Linked DNA regions of Homo sapiens: region 2 is linked to region 1. The links come from fine-mapping of genetic effects on gene expression. A gene starts in region 1. The other region holds a variant in brackets. All regions are shown on one strand. Distances are between the middles of the regions.

Region 1 (8,422 bases):
TTGCATTTCTCTAATGATTGGTGGTGTTGAGCTTTTTTTTCATGTTTGTTGGCCACGTAAATGTCGTCTTTTGAGAAGTGTCTTCATATCCTTTGCCCACTTTTTGATGAGGTTGTTTGCTTTTTTCTTGTAAATTTGTTTAAGTTCCTTGTAAATTCTGGATTTTTGTCTGATGAGTAGATTGCAAACATTTTCTCCCATTCTGTAGGTTTCCTGTTCACTCTGATGATAGTTTGTTTCGCTGTGCAGAAGAAGCTCTTTGGTTTAATTAGATCCCATTTGTCAATTTCAGCTTTCTTTACAATTGCTTTTAGTATTTTAGAGATGAAGTCTTTCCCCATGCCTATGTCCTGAATGGTATTGCCTAGGTTTTCTTCTAGGGTTTTTATGGTTTGGGGTTTTACACTTGTCTTTAATCCATCTTGAGTTAATTTTTGCATAAGGTGTAAGGAAAGGGTCCAGTTTCTGTTTTCTGCATATGGCTAGCCTGTTTTCCCAGTACCATTTATTGAGTAGAAGAGCCTTTCCGCATTGCTTTTGTCAGGTTTGTCAAAGATGAGATAGTTGTAGATGTGTGGTGTTATTTCTGGGGTCTGTTCTGTTCCGTTGGTCTATGGGTCTGTTTTGGTACCAGTACCATGCTGCTTTGGTTACTGTAGCCTTGTAGTATAGTTTGAAGTCAGGTAGCGTGATGCCTCCAGCTTTATTCTTTTTGCTTAGGATTGTCTTGGCTCTACAGGGTCTTCTTTGATCCCATATGAAATTTATTTATTCTATATTTCCATAAGTTATTGGGGTACAGGTTGTATTTAGTTACATGAGTAAGTTCTTTAGTGGTGATTTGTGAGAAAATACATGCTTTAAAATCTCTTTCAGACATGGGGATTATGATTTTCTCCTAAGTAGTTTACTTTTCTCATATAATAGGAAGTCCAGAGTAGGTGTTTGCTGGCATTGATTTAGCTCCCTGATGCTTCCATCAAAGATCCAGGATCTTTTTATCTTTTAGTCCAATTGTCCTTGTTTTGTTGTCTTTTATCCTTAGGATTGCTGCCTATGGTCACAAGATAGCTTCTGAAACTTCAGTTAATTACAGGATGCCTCATTAAGCAGGAAGCTGGAGGGAATGGGCTATGCCTCTTGTGCCTATCTCCTTTTGTCAGGAAAGCACAATGACAGAAGCCTACCAGGAGACTTCCCTGTACTTCTCATAGCCAGGACTGGACCACATAACTATACCTGGCTGCAAGGGAGACTGGGAAATAAGGAACAAAATTATGACTTGGTCAGTCTAGTCATACTCTATCACCTGTGCCAGGGCACATTGCTACCCCAAGGAATGAAGTGTGAGGGTAAATATTGGCAACAACTAGCAGCATCAGTCTCATAGGGTCGTAGATATATCCTTCTCTACTATGATCTAAGTAGTGCTCTTCTATATAATAGTATAATCCATGCATTCACTAAAAGAGAATTACTTTGTACTCTAAAATTCTTTACAAATGTCAAAAGATGCTGTGTGAAGTATCTTAGTATTTTTATTTATTGATTCTGTGTCTTTTATGTTTGTGGGGGAAAATTCAACTGATTTGTCAAAGATTTGATTACAGATACAGAATACAGTAGAATTATAAACCACCCCTCAAAATTTGTAAATAGGAATTATCATAAAACTTTCATGAAAGCAAAAGATATTTCCAAATTTAAGGTGTGTAGTGTGTTGCACAGGAAATATTGTTGCTCTCACTTTCTTGATTCTATAGCATTTGATAGTGAGCAGATACCAAAGTTTGATTCATATGTCCATGTTTCATCATTCAATCAAGATGTTGAAGTTCATATTTAAAAACAATCTTAATAAATATCTAGTAAACACTTTGTTTCAGGAATCATGCTAGCATACTTGCATGTATATGTACATATGCAAGTTAAAGTCTTCCTTCTCACAACAACAAATTTCTCAGTAACATAGGGTAGGATGTATAAAAAGTCTAAAGCACTAAGTTTGGGGTTTTATTTTGTTTCCAAGACTTGCAACTTGAGTCTTGATATGAAGTAGGAGCCTCTAAATATGGGGTAGCTGGTCTTTTTTAAATAGAATAAAATCAACAAACATAAAATCAAAACGTGCTGTTTTTCTAACTTAGGGATATAGAGACGCAGCAAATATTAGGTAACAATATTTTCCTACTTTTGAGCCAATTGTTTTGGCATCCTGAAAACATAATTTAAGTTACATAGTCAAAAGAAGTAATGCTGTTACATGTGGAAGATATATTCACATACAATTTACATTTCAGTGTACATTCTAAAGACATATGAATCAAAAATGATTGAAGGAAAATAAAGTATCTAGGTTCACAGATATTTATTTTGAAACCATGATCGTCAGGCCTCCATGATAAAGCATGTGCCTAAAAGGTGTTCTGGCTTTCACTTTGGAGATTTGGAAACAGTCTCAGGGACCAGTAACTTGCCCAAATTCTTGCAGGTTTCATAGCCATGACAGCTCTGGCAACCCTAAGGGTCTAAGGGATAAGATTTCTAAATCCACTTCATACAACTAACAGTGGTGCTCAACCATGACTCACATTAGAATCACCTGGAAAGCTTTTTTAAAAATACTAGTGCCTGGCCTCTACCCTATAGCAATGAATCCAAATTTTTGGTATTGGGGTCCAGGCATTGATTTTTTTTTTCTTTTTAAATAAAAACACTCAAAAAGCCAAAAATTTCCTCAGGTAATTTTATTACGCAGTGTAGGTTGAGAAACACTGATTATGCCATAGACCTGAGAATATGATTAATTGGGTTGTTGAATCAGGGTGATCCATAGCTAATGGGTTCTCAAACATTCAGTTCATGTGGTATTTCATGACCTGAAAGCAAATGCAGACAAGTTTTTTGTGTCTTATTTGAAATGCTGTTGTCAGACAGTATCATCTTTTCCAGCTATTCTTCTCTTTTCATTTTCAGGTGACTCATGCGGAAGAGTGTGCTTGCTTCATGTTGCAACTTAGTCCTTCACATGGTTGTCCCAATGCCCCATTTACCTTTGTGGCCATTGGCACAGCCTGGAAGTTTAGAACAATGCAAGTCATCTTGACATCTAAAACGTGATTTCTGGTAATGCCTTAGGAAGTAGTTTCAGGTTAATTTGTATTTCCAAACCGCCTCGGACTCCTTCCTGAAACAGATTAAAAACTGCGTATTGGCAAAGAGTGAGGGGAACTAGGTGAGGGGGATTGGGCTAACACTGGCTCCTTGTGATTAGTCCTGATTTAAATGCTGGAAATGACAATGGAGTTTGTTTATGGCTTTTCTCACCCTGAAGATATCTTTACAGGAATATTTATTTGAACACTAACTGGGTAAAGATTTACAGGGGCTCAAACAATTCTTTTTCAAGGAGCTGAGGGCCTAATTTTTATCATACACATCAATACATTTTTTTCCTTACAGGAAATGTGTGGGTGTCTGGGCTTTTAAAAATTGTATATCATACTCTTCTTTCTTGCCTCAATGTTGCTTTGATAAAATGATTTACTTGAATCTTAAACTGATTATTTACCAGCTATAGGACTTGGGAAAAATTGCTTAACTCCTATGAGACTGGGCACAATCATCTCTGAAGCAAAGACAGGGTTATCTGTGGCTTATTGTGGTTGCAGAAATTAAAGAGATAATTTTCAAAAAGCACCTAGTACAAAGTCTGGGTTAGGTAGTTCTCCAATAAACATAATTTATCCTCTCTTCCTTCCTCTTCCGTCAAACAGAATATATTCTCCAGAAGAACCTGATATAAGTGGTGTGTACATAAATGAGAATTTGTCATTTTTTAATTTCCTCGAGTATTCTGTAAGAGTAGACTTTAATAATACAGTTTTATAATACAGTAATACAGTTATAATGTTTGCCATGTGCTTTACTATGAGAGTTGTTGATTGGATGGCTTGTCTTCTTTGGTAGAATTCAGTATCAGTGAGTGGAAAGGTTATTTTTGCATGTGGTTGGTCAGGCAACAGAGAAGTCACTCCATACAAGCAGCTTTCTACTCTGCATACAAGGTAGATCCAGTGGAAGTCACGTTGAGTGATGTGTTTGTGCAAACAGCAGTTAATGACCATGTAGGATATCCCATCATCAGAGCTCTATCCCAGCTGACTCAGAGTAGGATTAATCATGAAAGCCTGGATTTAGATGTGTGTCTGAAGATACATGTGTGCTGGGAAAGAAATTAGGCTGGACTTTTATAAAAATTGTTACAAAGAAGCAACAATAATTAGAATAGAAAAAATGGCCTTCAGCCATTTAGTGTCCTGGTAGACATGAACCAACACAGCCCACTTCAGGCTGGCAGATGTGAGAGAATCTGTGGAAGGGAGGCTTGAACCGTCTTGAAAATATTTCCCAAAGCCTCTGCTGCTGGGATACTGGTCAGAAGTGCCCCAAGTCTGTTTATCTGGAGACATGGAACGCTTTATTCAAGGACCTGTGGAGAGAAGGCAGACAAGACTGTAGAGTCTGCACTCTCATCCTCTTGAGGGCACACCTTATTTACAAAAGGAGATTTAGATTACTTGATCCCATAAATCTTGGCATAGAGAAACTCAAAGCAAATATTTATTCTACAAGGATGGGTTAGCAGTGTTAAGGTACTGAAATTTACCTTGTACAACTTTAAAGAAGTTTATTGAGTTGTTAATGGAATAGCATTACCTATGATTAACTAATGTTGAGAAACTGTTGGCAGGTTCCTGGTAAATATTTAACAACACTTATGAATCAGACAACAGAAATGGAATAAAATTCCAAAAAAGCTGTAGTTTTTTCATTTGGCTTGAAGTCAGTATAGAGAAGTTATTTAAAATAAGATTTTCGTCCCACGGAATTGTCCCCTTTGTTATTGTATATCCTTCAGGTTTATGGGACAGCACTAGAGGAAAGTGACAGCCTCAGAGGACCTTCAGGTAAGCTGGCTCCATTTTGGTGACATACATATAGAGGCATAAATACCTGGTTTTTACTGAGAATACCCTGGATAATTATTAAATTGGATTTGGACTAAGGAAGAAAAGGTCTTCTTGCTTTTCATTTTCTCTCTCCACATGAATGTATGTATGTGTGTGTATGTATGTATGTTTTTATAAAAATATTTGAAACTTTGAGCTCCTGAAATCCTAGACTTGGCTTCCTTGAACATGATTGTTTTCTGTTGAAAATTCTTTTCATGCCAATTCTATCTGACTAGTTTCAACTCTTCGATAACCAGGAGTCTGTAATAGATGATGTCATAGGGGTCTAGAATATTGGCATCTGACTTCAAACAAGAGATCAAAACTAATTTCGAGACAAGTTCCAAGTGTGTTCGCTAACTGCTATAAAGAGCACTAAACATTCATGATTCATTTAACTGTGTCTACACCACATAGAATGAGTGGAGACTTGCTACTTTTCTAGTCATTTATTATCCACCTATGCTGACAGATCCCATTAATCAGACTAGTTGGTTAATTGACAGATCTCCATTTTGCTTTTTGTTTATAGATAGTTCTGGTGTATAGATGCCAAACGTGGTATTCTATCATTGTGCACGATTCTTAAGATGACTTTTGGCCAGTCTAAACACTGCCTAGGAGTTGTTTATCATGCTTGATTTACTACTCCTCCTGAAGCATGTATACTATTAATTTCTGCTTGAGAATTTCCAACAAAGCAAACATTTACACAAAGAGGGTGATTCCCTTCTGGCTGTAGGGATGGATCAAGACAGTGGTACCAAAATAGATATGACTGTGTCCAAGTTCCTGAGACTTTAATCACATTTAATCACTGTACAAGTTGTGCTGGGAGGAAGGAAGATGTGGTGTCTCTCTGTGGCTGCACAATATATCTTGTCAACTCTTCAGCGAAGCTACGTACATGGCTGCAATAAAAGGGCTACCGTGTGTGTGTGTGTGTGTGTGTGTGTGTGTGTGTGTGTGTGTTTGTATTTTTCCAACTTCATTTACCAGTTTTTAGTAGAAAGCCGTATTTTGTGTATTTAAAAACACTGAGAATTGGGCAAGGCAAAAAAAAAAAAAAAGATGTTAGGATAAAGGAAAATTTCCCACAGGAATTACCAAGAATTTATCCCACAGAGGAAGTCCTTCTCAATTGCTTCTTGCTCATGGAAATATTTTCACCTGCCTTGCCAAGGCCTTGATACTGATATCTGGAAGGTATTAAGCAATCCAGAAAGTTTATTCATCAACTTTGATTCATCTTAATAAGAGAGCTTAGAAATCAAAGTTATTTCCCTCCTTCCTGCAAAAAGTTCAGGATTTGTAATGCTAAATGGCTTGCTCCCTACTTAGAGCAAATACTTTAGTCAAATTTGATATATTGACTCATAACCCACACATTAGAGCCAAACATGTCCTGTTATGAAAAATTAAGACTCTCTCGACACACAACTTGGCTCTGAATTTGAACCCAATAAACAGTTTTTGTTTAAATGCTCCATTTGAAAAGTAAATTAAAATACATTAGAATAAGTGTTTCTGATTCTCAAAGATATCACTGGATCCAGGGCAAAAAATCCTGCACATGTTGGGCTTCCTCTCTGAAATCAATGCCCTTCCTTAGGGCTTCTGAACCAATGGATATGAATTTGAGGCTGGGGTAATGGCTGTGGTTGTTGCAAAAAAAGAAGAGAAGGGAATTGAGTCTGTCTTACAGAGGCAGATCCTGGTCTAGTATGAAGAGCATCATTGATGCTTTGAATTGAACCTGAACTCTAACACCTCAGAAACTGCCACAGTTCTAACCATTAGAACCAAAAGATAATTGCCCAGATGGATGCACTGTGCATGATCTGCAATCATAGCCTTTTGATAACTATAAATCAGCAATACTAAAAATACTGCTTTTTTTAACCAAAATATTTGAGATCCAAGGAAGAGCAGACTAGCAGCTAACTCCTAATAAAGGCAGGCTTCAAAGAAGTTACCCAATCAGACAATATGTTGCCCAGTTTTCTGCAAGAAAAAAGGTCTCTCAAACTTAAAAGCAGAGTTTTTTTCCACTGAAATCAAGAGAATCCTTTAGGTTATGGGGACATGATATTAATTATTTGGGGAACTTTAGATCTTGGCTATTTTTAGACTTACTTTTTCTGTATCTTTAAAAAAGTTTTCTAAATAGAGATGCTTTCATTTCTTGTAAATGTCAAAGCCACACTGCAGCTGTCTGCCGTGTCCTCAGAGGTGCTTGCTCCCTGCTCACTTTCCCTGCAAGGTCAAGTTGACCTTTGAGTGCTAAAGCCAAGGGAAAGCAGGCCCTGGTTAGAAGCAGCTAGACTGTTACTGGCAAAGTTACCATATGGCAGCAGGCTCTGCTTAGCATGGAGAAGAAATAGGAAATCATGGATTGTAGAAATGAGTTTGAAGCCCATGGAATCTGGGAATCAATTGTATATTCATTGAGTAACTCAATGTTGTTTTCAGCACGAGTACCTACTATGTGCCACACACAATTCCACACTGTTTCTTACTGCCTTTGGCCTCATAGACTGTTATGCCTTGTGTCCTTCCTTTACCGCTACTAGCAGCAGCATGGCCTAATGGAAAGTAAGAGGGGTTCAAATAAGAGCCCCAAATTCATATTTGAGCACTGACCTTCACTTGTATGACCTTTGGCTACTTAAATTACCTGAACCTGAGATTCCCGATTTATAACACAGGAATACAAACATTGCCTATATTCAAAACCATTGATATGCTTAGTTAATTTTAGCTAATGATTTTTTTCTGGAGTTTTTAGACATGAGAAAAATATTTAAGGGACATGGCAGCGGTAAAGAAGAAATAAACAGATGTAAGTTTGGAAAATAGTATTTGTGAGGGGAAACCAGAGGCCAGATATGGCACAGGCAGTTTATGAACCAAGGTGGGTGGGTTGGGTTGCCTGGGAAAGGATTTTAGAGGCATACTGCTAAATGAGTCAGTTATATCCAGAACTGGTGTCCAGTCCTTTCTGCCCTGACCCAACTTTATGTGGTTTGATTGATAATAAAGCAGTCATTTTGATCCTATTTACCAGAACCACCTGTAGCAAAACAGAGCCCATCCTTTGTGCATGAGGTAGAGTAGGCCTGTACTCTTGGTGAGAGGACAAGTGGTTTGAGTAGAATCATTGTTCTGCTCTGAGCTGGGAGATTTCTATCTAAGGCCCGTGGCACCTGAATTAAAGTTGGGAAGTATGCAGCAAGGTACTCTTGAGCATCACCTTTTCTTTTTGCCAAGGCTGCGTGAGTGTTCATAAAACCGAGAAACAGGGTTAGATGGGCAGACTCTTGGAAGGAGATCAATAAATGCCTGTTTTTCTTTTGCTAAATGCTTCCTTTGGCAATTTTTATCTTTTCATGTGCTATAATGCATCT
Region 2 (8,422 bases), 110 kb after region 1:
GGCCAATATGGCTGTCTAGAAGCAGCTACTGTGTGTAGCTCTCATGGAGAGAAACGGGAGGGGTGAGTAAATACAACACCTTCAACTGAAACATCCTAGTATTCACAAAGGGAGTAATCAAGGAAACAACTTGACTCATGGAGAACAAAGAAAACCAAGACAGGACAAAGCCCATCTGGGAGAAACACGGAGACAGGGGACCCTCCCCCACCTAAGGAATCCATGCTTCTTTGACAGATCTTTGCAACCCTTGGGACAGGAGATATCCTTGTGAACGCAGTCTACCAGGGACTTCAGTCTGACAGAGCTACATGGAGTCTTGGCAGAGCAACCACTCAGACATGCGTGGAATCACTGGAGCCTTAGATACTTGGGCTTTCCAGCAAAAGTAGCTGCAGCTCCAGCAAAGTGGGAGGTTAGAACCCTGTACATACCCATAGAAAAGAGGCTGAATTCAGGGGGCTGAGCAGCAACAGCCTGCAGGCCCCAAGTCCATGCTACCTCACAAGATAAGACCCACAGCTTAGAATTCTGGCCAGCCACTGGTACCAGCATTGTAACTCCCTAAGGAAGAGCTCCCAGGGGGACAGGCAGGCCTCCATCTTTACTGTTCAGGTACATTAGCTGTTCCAGCCTTCAGGCTTTGCAGAATCCAGGCCAATCGGGCAGAAGGGATCCCCCAACACAGCACAACTGCTGTACCAAACATGGCCAGACTACTACTATAAGCAGGTCCCCAATCTCATTCCTTTTCACTGGACAGGACCTCCCAACTGGGGTGCCTCCAGCCACCTCTCCCCTAAAGGTGTTCTCTGGCCAACAGAGATTAGTAACTTCCCAGGGATGGAGCTCACAGAGGGGGTGGGCCACCATCATTGCTGTTTGGGTGACTTAGCCATTCCAGCCATCGGGCTTTGGAGTGTCTAGGCAACCAGGGGCTGAAGCAAATGCCCAGCAAAGCATATCTGCTCTACCAAAATGTGGCCAGACGTCTTTTTAAAGCAGGTCCCTGATCCTGTTCCTCCTCACTAGGCAGGATCTCCCAGCTGGGGTCTCCAGCCACCTCCTACAGGTGCCTTTGGGCCAGCAGCAGGCACATACCTCTCTGGGTCAGAGCTCCCAGAGAGAGGGCCAGATTGCCATTTTGCTGCTTCACAGCCTTCATTGGTGATACCTCCAGGTACTGGAAAATCTGATGTGACTAGGGATTGGAGGGGGCCCCAAGCATACTGAAGCAGACCTACAGAAAAGTGGCCAGACTGCTACATGGGTGCTTGTTCCCATATCCCATATCTCCAGGTCTTTCAGGCCTGGGCCTCTAGCCATCCCCCACCAGAGCTATCAAGCCCGTGGCAACTTGGCAACTCCCTGGACAGAGCACCCTGGGTCAACTGAAAGCTTCTCCTGTATTGCTTTATTTTGATTCTCATTCTCCTTGGATTGGAGTTTGCTTCCCTCCTGAATCTCAATGATGTTCTTATCCATATTCTGAATGATATTTCTGTCATCTCAACCAGGTTAAGAACTCTTGTTGGAGAACTGATGCAGTCATTTGGAGAACATATGACACTCTAACCATTTGAGTTACCAAAGTTTTTGTATTCATTCTTTCTCACCTCTGTGTGTAGATGTTCCTTTAACTGGAGTGTAGGTTGAGTATAATCCATAGACTTCTTTCCAGGAGCTAAAGAATGAAATAGCAAGTATAAAAAAGAACCTAACAAGTCTGACAGAGCTGAAAAACACAATACAAGACTTTCACAGTGCAATCACAAGTATTAACAGCAGAATAAACCAAGCTGGGGAATGAATCTCAGAACTTGAAGACTGGTTCTCTGAAACGAAGCAGTCAGACAAAAATAAATAAAAAAGAAAAAGAATAAACAAAACCTCTGAGAAGTATGGGATTATGTAAAGAGGCCAAATCTATGAATCACTGGCATCCCTATAAGGGATGGGGAGAAAGCAAACAAGTTGAAAAGCATATCTTAGGATATCATCTATGAAAACTTCCCCAACCTTCTAGAGAGGCAAACAGTCAAAATCAGGAAATAGAACTCCTGCAAGATTCTCCACAAGAAGATCATGCCCAAAACACATAATTGTCAGATTTTCCAAGGTCAAAATAAAAGAATGTTAAAGGCAGCTAGAGAGAAAGGGCAGGTCACCTACAAAGGGAACCCCATCAGACAGTGCAACTCTCAGCTAAAACCCTACAACCCAGAAGAGAGTGGGGGCCTATACTCAACATTCTTAAAGAAAAACATCATCTTCAAGAATTTCATATCCAGCCAAACTAAGCTTCCTCAGTGAAGAAATAAGATCCTTTCCAGATAAGCAAATGTTGGGGGAATTCATTACCACCAGACCTGCCTTACAAGAGATCTTGAAAATAACACTAAATATAGAAAGGAAAGACTGCTACCAGCTCATACAAAGACACACAGACCAGTGTCACTGTAAAGCAAACAAGCCACCATAATAACCAATTAACAGCACAAAGACAGGATCAAATCCACACTTATCAATACTGGCCTTGAATGTAAGTGGGTTAAATGCTCAATTTAAGAGGCACAGAGTGGCAAGCTGGATAAAAAAGCAAGATCCAATGGTATGCTGTCTTCAAGAGACCCATCTCATGTGTAATGACACTCATAAGCTCAAAATAAAGGGGATGGAGGAAAACATACCAAGCAAATGGAAAACGGCAAAAAGCAGGGGTTACAATTCTAATTTCAGACAAAACAGATTTCAAACTAACAAAGATAAAGACAAAGTATATAATGGTAAAGGGTTCAATTCTACTAAGAGACATAGTTGTCCTAAATATATATGCACCAAACAGGAGCACCCAGATTCATAAAGCAAGTTCTTAGAGACCTACTATACAAAGAGACATAAAGTCTCCCACTATTATTCTGTGGGAGTCTAACATTCCACTGACAATATTAGATCATCAAGGCATAAAATTAATAGATATTTAGAACCTAAACTCAACATTGTACCAATGGATCTGATAGACCTTTAAAGAACTCTCCACTGGAAAGTAACAGAATATACACTCTCTCATCACCACATGACACATACTCTAAAATTGGCCACATAATTAAACATAAAACAATCCTCGGCAAATGTAAAAAGAATCAAAATCATACCAAACACTCTCTCGGACAACAGTACAATAAAAATAGAAGTCAAGACTATGAAAATCGCTCAAAACCATGCAATTACATGAAAATTAAACAATATGCTTCTGAATGACTTTTGGGTAAATAATGAAATTAAGGCAGAAATCAAGAAGTTCTTTGAATATCATGAAAATAAAGATACAACATACCAGAATCTCTGGGACACAGCTAAGAAAGTGTGGAGAGGGAAATTCATAGCACTAAATGCCCACATCAAGAAGTTAGAAAGATCTCAAACTAACAACCTAAATTAAATGGAAAGAATTAAAGAAGCAAGGATAAGTCAACCCCAAAGCTAGCAGAAGACAAGAAATAACAAAAATCAGAGCTGAACTGAAGGAAATTCAGAGACAAACCATTTAAAAAATCAACAAATCTAGGAGTTGTTTTTTAAAAAAAAATTAAAGTAGATAGGCCACTAAATAGACTAATAAAAAAATTAAGACAATTAGAAATGATGAAAGAGATATCACTGACCCCACAGAAATGAAAACAACCATCAGAAACTACTATAGAGACCTCTCCACACACAAACTAGAAAACCTAGAAGAGAT[G/A]GACAGATTCCTGGACATATACACCCTCCCAAGACTGAGCCAGGAAGAAATTGGTTTCCTGAACAGACCAATAATGAGCTCCAAAATTGAATCAATAATAAATAGCCTACCAACCAACCAAAAAAAAAAAAAAAAAAACAAAAAACAAAAGCCCAGAGCCTGATGGATTCACAGCCAAATTCTACCAGATGTACAAAGAAGAGTTCATACCATTCCTACAGAAACTATTCCAAAAAAACTGGGTCGGTTGCAGGGCGAGGACTCCTCCCCCACTCATTCTATGAAGCCAGCATTATCTTGATACCAAAACTTGGCAGAGACACAACAAAAAAAAACATCAGGCCAATATCCTTGCTGAACATTGATGCAAACATTCTCAACAAAATACGTGCAAGCCGAATCCAGCAGCATACCTAAAAGCTAATCCACAACAGTCAAGTAGGCTTCATCTCTGGGATGCAAAGTTGGTTTAACATATGCAAATCAATAAATGTAATTCATCACATAAACAGAACTAAAGATGAAAAACACATGATTACCTCAATAAATGCAGAAACGGCTTTCAATAAAATTCAGTCTCAGCACTCTGGGAGGCCAAGGTAGGCAGATCGCCTAAGGTCAGGAGTTCAAGACCAGCCTGGCCACCATGGTGAAACCTTATCTCTACTAAGAATACAAAAATTAACTGGGCATGGTGGTTGCACCTGTAATCCAAGCTACTAGGGAGGCTGAGGCAGGAGAATTTCTTGAACCTGGGAGGTGGAGGTTGCAGTGAGCCAAGATTGCACCACTGCACTCCAGCCTGGGCAACAATGCAAGACTCCATCTCAAAAAAAAAAGAAAAAGAAAAAGAAAAACAAAAACGAAAAAAAAAAAGTTAAGAAAAAGAAAATAATGATCTTGTGGTTCATATTCTGATATTCTGGCACTCTTTCAGAGTGTAACAAGACCTTCTAATTAGACTTCATATAAACTCTCTACTTTTAAATATCTTCTTTTCTTTTTTTCTTTTTTTAACAAAGATTGGCAGAGTAGAGACATATCTTTAAGGGAGAATCTTCCTACTTAACTAATCATCTGTCCATCTGTCCATCCTATGCCTGTCTTCTTTCTCCTTTTTTTCCCTCAATATGACCACATATTGAACACCTACAACATGCAAAGCATTGTGCTAGGTTGATTCCTATTCCTATTTCCAAAAAGTCTTAGCTGCCCTCTTGGAATCAGCAAACAGCTACATATATAGGATTCTTGGAGTATCCTTTTTCCATTGCTTATAGAAACACACATATGCTTTGCTCCTTGGACTGCTAACCCCACTAAGGAAACACTGTCCCAGAGGGATAGTTCCTTTCCATATAGAAACAGTGATGCAGCACTGAGTAGGCACTCAGTAGTTACTGAATAAATTCATCAATAGCTGTGACAGCTTTCCCCTCTCCATGCCAAACTCCTAAGTAAGCTTTGAAAATCCTTCAAATTTACTTCTATTCCTTTCCATTCTACCATTTTTGAAATGGAAATACGTGAAGGAAAATGGATCCTGAATAATTTCAGCCCAAATTCCTGGAGGAAAATAGTAAGAAAAGGGAAATTGCTACTTATTTGGAGCTGCCCACAAGTTAAATTTTTATGATAAGATAAATTCTCATTATTTCAGCATTACCTCCTTCCTAGTAAAATTTATCATTGGTAGCTACCCTCATTTGCATTATTTAATATGCCCTGCTAGGATAATGTTATTTTTATTTTTTTTCACATGTCAAAACAGAGGCTTTGAAAAATTAAATAACTGGCCACCCAAAGAAGTCACTGGGTCAAAGATGGGGCTAGCATGGGGGTTTGAACAACCTGTTTAAGAAGGGACAGGTGCTGAATTAGTGGAATGTAAGAGTTGGCACTGAGCAATAGGCAAGCCCAAAAGAAAGAAGGCTGACTCACCAGGAAATGGAATTAGCACAAAAGGTCAACTTTCTCTCACAGATAAAGGAAAACTCACAAGTCATATCCCCGACAGGACAAAAACAAAGCCTAGACACTTCAGCAAAAACATAGCATGCCCAGAATATGACTTTTCTAGGAAAACTTTTGAATAACACTTACATATGGGAAAAATGTTTTAAAAACTGGGTACATATTGGGATAGAAAGAATATTCAGGTACGCATTAAGGATATTTCTAGATCTCTTGTCTCCTCTGGGTACAACTAGGTGTACAGAGAAAAATATTTTAGGAGTTTTCATTTCAAAATAAACAGAACAGGAAAATAAAGAATTCATTAAAAGAGTATAAAATTAATTTTAGTTGCAAAATAGTATGACTACCATTTAAACTAAGAAACAGCTCTTCTAGCGCTGCTACTACGGGTTCAATTCATTACAACTGATAAGATGTGGAGGACATGAAAGGGAGAGAAGGGTTGGACAGGAAAACCTTCAGGAAGATGGGGGAAAGCCACTAATAGTCATTGGTTCTAGCAGTCCATTAAAACATTTTCCAGCCTGCTTATTGAAGCTGTGGAAAAACTGGGGACTCATATTTCTCACTCTAGGATGTGGAAAGTTTAAATTACAAGAAGATGGAAAGGGAGGAAATGGCAAAAGGAAGGAACACCATGAGTTAGTTACAGCTAATCTCAATATATGGATATTTCTTAATTTAAGAAATGCAGGGAAAATCAAACAAAACGATGGGGATTATAACCAAACTGCCATGAATTTATGTACCAAAAAAGCTGAAAAAACAGGGCTTTCTTAAAGCTTATACAAATGAAGAGAAACATTAGACTGTGTACTTCATTATTATAATAAATACCCATTGAGCAGGCTGTCTACATAATGCATGTACATATAAGAGGGCAATAAAAAATCAACTGGGCAACTTTTTATTGTCCTCATATATACATAATGGGGCAAGTATAAGTCAATGGACCATTCTGAACATGCCCATATCTAATGAATTGGCAGCTATCACTTAGATATTAGAATTGCTACTATTCATTAAATGCTTCCCATGCTGTGGGCATATTTTAAGGAAATTTACATGTTATTTCATTGAATTCCTCTAGCAGCTCTGAAGTATTGTTACCCTCAGATAGATAGTAGATGAGAAAACTGAGGCTGAAAGAGAGTAATAACTCATCCAAGGACACATGGGTAGGAAATAGAGAAGCCAAGGCTTAAGCCTAAGGATAATTCTCTCAGAGTTCATGCTCTTTCTACTATGCCACACTCTTTCACCTCCATCTTACTCTGGGGTATGATGAGCTTGATGAGGTAGAGAAAGGCTTCTAATGACATGGAAACTAAAGGCAGTACTCCTCAGGAGAGAGGGCTAAATAAGAGTATTTAAGATGATAGCATGGAAAACAGACTGCATGTTGTAAACACCTAGTGCAACGCTTGGCATATTGTAGGTGTTCAATGTATGGTCATGTTGATGGAAAACAAAGAGGAGAAAGAAGGCAGGCATAGGATGGACAGATGGACAAATAGTTGGTTAAGTAGGAAGATTGTCCTTTTCCTTTGAAGTTTACAGGGATCTGTGTGAAAGCCAAAATTTCAAAGAAACGGAGGGAAGCATACACAGCTGAGGTTGTGCCAGAGCTAGGGTTCTTACAGGAGTGGAAGGACATCATCCCATCAGGACATGAAAGTTGGAGACATGGTCTCTAGGACTCCAAAGAGAAGGCATTTTTATCCCTTTGCTCATGCAAGATAGGCAAAGCATTTAAATATTTGGGATTAGAATATATTATATTCTATATATATATATTTTCTGTATGTGTGTGTATATATAAAATATATACTCTCCCAAACTTTTGAAATCCCAAATATGTTAAAAAAAATACATATATATATATAATATATATATGGCTATATATGTAGGGGAATAGGTATGTATATATATAGATAGGTATAGACACAGGCAATTGCAAGATATATATACCTATATATACACACACACCTTACAATTGCTTGTTTTGTCATTTACTTTTGTTAAACTTAAAGCTGTTTCTGTGTTAACTTGTTTGCAAGGATTAGTGTAAGAGAAGAAAGTGATTTTTTGGTTCCTTGTCTTTTCTCATGCCTACTGTAGGTCATGGTAGGCTTTTTTTTGTCAACATTACAATCTGAATTTTTAGCATCATATTGTAATAAGCTTTCCCTTGTTTTCCTGATACACTGAAAAAATTTAAGAGCATTCATGATGCTGTTGAATGTTTCTTTGAAGAAACAGATAACAGGGGCTGGGCGCAGTGGCTCATGCCTGTAATCCCAGCACTTTGGGAGGCTGAGGTGGGTGGATCACGAGGTCAGGAGATTGAGACCATCCTGGCTAACAAGGTGAAACTCTGTCTCTACTAAAAATACAAAAAACTTAGCCGGGCATGGTGGCGGGTGCCTGTAGTCCCAGCTACTTGGGAGGCTGAGGCAGGAGAATGGCATGAGCCCAGTAGGTGAAGCTTGCAGTGAGCAGAGATCAAGCCACTGCACTCCAGCCTGGGTGACGGAGCAAGACTCCATCTCCAAAAAAAAAAAAAAAAAAAAAAATTAAAATTAGAGAAAACCTGAAGTGTTTGGAGGTTTTGATCAGATGTATTCTCAAGTGGAGGGCTTCTATGAAATAGCATAGCTCTAGGAAGGGGCAGTTAAGCATGAAACCCTAGGTAGCATTAAA

Which allele goes with the higher level. Positions count from the first base shown, and alleles are read on the strand shown. Sizes are in standard deviations (SD) of each study's normalised expression.
In carriers of allele G in region 2, the expression in testis of the gene that starts at base 4,813 in region 1 tends to be higher than with A alone (small effect, 0.29 SD a copy in GTEx).

Evidence for each region. PIP is the estimated chance that this variant, and not a neighbour inherited with it, causes the effect.
Region 2: its variant is fine-mapped to the expression of LINC02889 in testis (GTEx, PIP 0.95).

What each region holds. Positions count from the first base shown.
Region 1 is chr7:17,555,300-17,563,721 of GRCh38, reverse strand. LINC02889 (long intergenic non-protein coding RNA 2889) reads left to right here and starts at 4,813. Exons shown (of 4, transcript NR_110013.1): 1 at 4,813-4,970.
Region 2 is chr7:17,442,143-17,450,564 of GRCh38, reverse strand. All of the region lies in intron 1 of LINC02888 (long intergenic non-protein coding RNA 2888), which reads right to left. All of the region lies in intron 4 of LOC105375172 (a long non-coding RNA gene), which reads left to right. Among named protein-coding and RNA genes, the nearest start is that of LINC02888, 71 kb to the right of the region's middle. The variant G/A (reference allele first, on the strand shown) is at 3,743.